Regions from separate parts of the Homo sapiens genome. Here region 1 is linked to region 2. The links come from fine-mapping of genetic effects on gene expression. Tissue or cell type: whole blood. Region 2 holds a variant in brackets; the other region holds the start of a gene. All regions are shown on one strand. Distances are from middle to middle.

Region 1 (2,683 bases), 370 kb before region 2:
TTTAGCAAACAAAAACATGACACCCAGTTAAATTTAAATTTCAGATAAATAATAGTATTTTAGTATAAGTATGTCCCATGCAATATTTGGGACATACATATACTAATATTATTCATTGTTTCTCTGAAAGTCAGTTTAATTGGGTGTCCTGCATTTTGTCTGGAAGCTCTTCCTCTGTAGCCACTCTGTTATGTGGTACCCTGCTTAACTGTTTCCATGGGACTTTTGCATATTAGAAATTCTGTTTATTGTCTCGCATCACCTCCCAACCCTCACCCTCACAATAAGCTCCATGTGGGTGGGACCCTGATGCCCTGTTCACAGCTGCATCCCCAGAGCCTATCACAGTGCCTGGTATATAGTAGGTGCTTAATAAATATTTGTTATAAAGGTAACAAAAACAAAACAAAACAAAAAACTTAGGTTGGTAACACCTCCAAAGCATACTGCTAGCTAGACAAGACTGATCAGTGTGCTACCGCAGCTTAGGGAACTCTCCCGTTTTCCCCATTTAGGAGGACGAAAGAGGCATTGTGTTGCTGGCCTTTCAGAAGTCTCTCCTAGCAGAATCAGAAGACCCTGGCTGAGCAGCTTTGGGAGAAGCAAAGTCTGAATGAGCTAAAAAGCCTTTTCCGTTTGCCTTGCAACAAGCAAATGAAGTAACCAAAGAAAAAATGCGCTTGAATGAAAAGAACAAGATTCTGTGCGTGCCGAATCGGATCAAAGGCAGTGCGCATCACCCATCTTCGTCCACCGTAAACTCCCTGCAACTTAAGGGCTGGCTTTATCGTCAGACTCCGGAAATGCTAGAACCTGATCATAAGAGACCAGTGCAGAGGCAAATAAAGAAAAGGGAGGGGTGGATGGGGATGAAGTCAAGACAGAAGAAATTAAACTCTCGTCTTGGACCCAGGGAGCGCAACGGGGCGGGGGCAGACGTCTTCAGCTTTAGAACTCCGTCGGGTTCATCGCTCAGTGTGGACGATCGGCGCCCCCACGAGACCCATCGAGGGCACATAGTTTCCACTCCAGCTCGCTTCATCCGACCCAGACGATCGCCAGCGCGGCCAGCGGCCAGCGCACAGCGAGCTGCCTGGGCAACTGTGGCCGGATCCTAGGGAGCAAGCTGGCTTCGGGCCCTACCTAGCTCCACCCGGCTCCTACCGGCCCTCCCACCTAGGAGCTGGAGGATGGTCCCGGGGCGCCCCAGGGGGACTGCTGGTCCCCGGAGTCTCCAGCCAGACGCGCCTTGTTGTGTGAGCCGCGTGCGCGCCCAATTTGGAGGCAGCCGCCCCCGCCGCTGACAGGTGCTGCCCAGAGGGCGCCGGGTGCGGTCCCTGGCGCAGCTGGACGCGCACGCCCCGGTGCGTGCAGCTTCCCGAGCTCGGTCAGAGAGAAGAGGGAGCCAGGGCGCGGCCTGGGGGACGCCAGTGGACTGGAGCCGCGGAGCTTCGAGGGAAAAACTTTGCAGGCGCCGCGGCCGGGATTCGGTTACGGCTCCAGCCCACCCCAGCAGGTGCGGGAGGAAGAGGCAGCGCCGGAGTCCCGAGGCCAGAGAGCCTCGGCGGCGGCGGCCGCTTCTTTCCCCCGAGCTGGCCTGAAGTCGCTGGGCACTCCCGGTTTCTGCTGCTGCGCCCGCCGCCGCCGCCGCCGCCACCGCCAGCGCCGCGGGGACCCGGGAGGAGGTGCAGCCGAAGAGGGAGGAGAAGCAGGAGGAGGAGGAGGAGGAGGAGGGGAGAGGAGGAGCAGGGGGTGGAGGATGGAGCCCCGGGCTGCCGCGGCGGGCGAGCCAGAGCCGCCGGCGGCGTCCTCCTCCTTCCAGGCCCGGCTCTGGAAGAACCTGCAGCTGGGGGTGGGCAGGAGCAAGGGCGGCGGGGGCGGGCGCGCTGGGGGTCCAGAGCGCCGCACTGCGGACACCCCGTCGCCCTCCCCGCCACCCCCGGTGGGCACAGGGAATGCACCGGCCAGGGGGAGTGGTGCAGGCAGCAGGTGGAGCGGCTTCAAGAAGCGGAAGCAAGTGCTGGACCGAGTCTTCTCCTCCTCGCAGCCCAACCTGTGCTGCTCGTCGCCGGAGCCCCTGGAGCCCGGCGGCGCCGGCAGAGCCGAGCAGGGGTCCACGCTACGCCGCCGGATCCGCGAGCATTTGCTCCCCGCCGTAAAGGGGCCCGCGGCGGCCTCGGGAGCAGCGGGAGGGACGCCTCCTGGCGGACGCTCCCCCGACTCAGCTCCTTCCTCTTCCTCCGCCTCATCCTCCCTGTCCTCCTCGCCCCAGCCTCCCCCGAGGGGGGACCGCGCCCGAGATGAGGGTGCACGGCGTCAGGGCCCCGGGGCGCACTTGTGCCACCAGAAGAGCTCCTCTCTGCCGGGCACCGCCTGCCTGGAGCAGCTGCTGGAGCCGCCGCCTCCTCCCGCAGAGCCGGCGCGGAGTCCCGCGGAGTCTCGGGCCCCGGAGACGGGCGAGGAGCACGGCAGCAGCCAGGTGAGTGCCGGTGGCGCGGCCGGAGACAAGGTGCGCGGGACCACGCCTCCCTCTTCAGGCGTTCACCACCCGGGGAGCGGGGGGCGGGGGCCGGGAGGCGGGAGGAGAAATGCTATTAATTCTAAGTAGATGAAACAGTCGAAAGAAAACATCTCGCTCTGGTTTAGCAAAGATGAAAGAGTTCTGACTTGCACCCGGACTTTA
Region 2 (2,683 bases):
TTTTATGAAGAAATGTTCTCCTTCCTCCCACTTAGCTCCCCAAGTTGTTTTGGAAATGTTCTTCTGGGTTATAGAAAAGCATTTCACAGCAACTAATGGCAGTAGGTAAAGTCTCTATTATGTTCATTTTATTTCTGTGAAAGCATAAAGGACCCAATGGAAAATGGAATCTTTTCTCCTCCTGTGAGCTTTACATGAGAACATGAACTTGACTTACAGGGTGAAAATGGCTTTTCTCTCCCTCACTCTGTAAGCCAAGTTCATGTTCTCATGTTAAAAACAAACAAACAAAAAAACCAGAAAACAAAATGAAAGGAGGAGCAAGCAAGGAAGGCACTATTTTAGACATGGCACTGTTAAAGAAACTTACTTCACATTGCTAATTGAAGACACTGTGTAAACTAGCTTTTACCCAGCTACTATTTGACTGCTTCTAGAGAGCACATAGAAAAATGGCATTAAGTATATTCTTCAACAAGCTGAAATATTATAAACACATGTGGTCATATAATAGAAAAGTAAAAGACAATTTCATGAATTAGCCATGTGCTTGCCACTTAAGTGGAGAGTACCCTTTGGAAACATTTTGTTTCAATCATACTTACCTTTTAACCTATGAGAGAATCTCCACCCTAAACACTTGTATTGGGGAAGCTCAGGAATAAAGATGAGAAATATTGGGGTTCTAGTCATATATCTACCATTTATGAGCACAACCACTCTGAGTTCCATCAGTAAAATGGGGCTAAGAAGCCTTGCCTTCTGACCTCATGGGGTTTTCGTGGGAACCAAATGTTGTAATGTAGATATGTACACTTTTAAATTCTAAAGCTCTATATAAGTTGGCAGCTATTAGCTCCTTGATCTTTGCTAAAATAATTACTTCTTCTTGCTTGCCACAACATTTGTTTTCTTTGCTTCCTTCTTTGCTACTCATATTCCTTAAAAAAGTTTCCAGTCCAAAGTTTAAAACCCAATTCTCTAGAGTCTGCTGTTAGAGGCAGTCTCAACAGCAGCAGAAGTGGTTAAACCAGTCATACACCAAAATCTACAGCTGGATTATATAATAATAAGTTGCATGAAATCTTAGAACTAAAACAAAGACCTTGGGCATAACTGGGCGCAACAAATTCTAAACAATTACTTTCATCTGAGAAGTCCTCTGTTCAACAAAATCCAATGTGGAAATCCAATATGGAGAACAGACAGGAGCAGAGGGGCTCCAGCTGAAGTGGGCATGGAGTTCTGCAGAACTTGCAGGTGCTCCATGAATTCTCCATTACACTTCAGAACACATTTGAATGCTGCTCTTGAAGCTCACAGGGATGAAGAGTATGTAGACAAAAGCCTGCGTTGATATTCATAGGGCAGAGCCACCAGGCAAAGTTCAAAATGTGCTGTGTTCAACAAGGCAGGAAAATATGCAATGTGATTTTGAAAGATTTTCATTGAAATGTTCAAATATTAGAAGTATTATCTTTTGAAGAATGTAGTTTTCATTTTCCTAATAGAAGCACTCTGAAATGCATGACTTTTGATGATGATGATAAAAATACCTATGGCGTTGCTCTGGTATGGAAAAAGGTAGGAAGTCAAAGTGGGAGGCAGAG[T/G]TACGTAAAATAGACTGTAACTTTGTAACATTAACGTAGAACGGATCAGATAGAAAGTAGTGCTAATCCGTAATTTAGAAGTGTACTTTGAGGTTGAGAGGAATGTTGAATTTCTTTATGAAATGACTGTGAGTAGGAAAAACACATTTGATAATATGAAAGAAACTATTTTTACAGTACTGCTTGATGCTGAATCCAGATTGAAAATGTTTTCACATTTAGTTACTTTCTATGGCTTGTTTTATGTCCTTTTTAGTTTAAAGAGATTATGTGGCCATTTTTAGTAGACTTGCAAATTTTAATAAAAGTCTAAGCCAGGTGTGGTGGCTTATGCCTGTAATCCCAGCACTTTGGGAGGCTGAGGCAGGAGGATCACTTGGAGCTAGGAGTTCAAAGCTGCAGTGAGCTATGATCATGCCACTGCACTCCAGCCTGGTCAACCAAGCAAGACCCTTTCTCTAAAAACAAAACAAACAAAAATAAAAAATAAAAATTAGCTGGGTGCAGTGGTGCATGCCTGTTGTCCCAGCTACTTGGGAGGATCACTTGAGCCCAGGAGTTTGAGGTTACAGTGAGCTATGACCATACCCCTGCACTCCAGCCTGGGTGACAGAGCAAGACTCTGTTTCTAAAAAGAAAAAAAAAAGAATAATAAAAGTCATTAAAGAAAATATTCAGATACTAAAATGTAAAATAAATTCAGAAACATACTTGCCAATATAAATCACATGGGTAACTTTAAACATTTTAAATATTTGTGATGAAAGTTTTAGGTATAAGCAAGACATCTTAGATGGGCTTATTGATTTTGTTTTCTATTTTGTGGTAACTTAAATTGTCCTTTAGCAATCTGAAGCTCAATAATCTCCAAATGTGGCAAGAAAGAAGTTTTTAAACTATCTGGATAGAACTTGCAACTAATCTTGCAATTAAAAACCACCTGTAAAATATATTTATAACATAGAGATCTTCAAACACCATAAATAGTTTAAAAATTAAATACCACAGTATGAACGAGGCCTTTGATATTTCTAACATTTATTGTATACATATTTTGGCATAAGCCTATTTGG

What was found. PIP is the estimated chance that this variant, and not a neighbour inherited with it, causes the effect.
Region 1: it holds the start of MCTP1, and the variant in region 2 is fine-mapped to the expression of MCTP1 in whole blood (TOPMed, PIP above 0.99).

Annotation. Positions count from the first base shown.
Region 1 is chr5:95,283,652-95,286,334 of GRCh38, reverse strand. MCTP1 (multiple C2 and transmembrane domain containing 1) reads left to right here and starts at 1,241. Exons shown (of 23, transcript NM_024717.7): 1 at 1,241-2,479. The coding sequence starts at 1,760. RefSeq lists silencers at 1,893-1,952, 2,033-2,152.
Region 2 is chr5:94,913,279-94,915,961 of GRCh38, reverse strand. All of the region lies in intron 8 of MCTP1 (multiple C2 and transmembrane domain containing 1), which reads left to right. Among named protein-coding and RNA genes, the nearest start is that of MCTP1-AS1, 64 kb to the left of the region's middle. The variant T/G (reference allele first, on the strand shown) is at 1,611.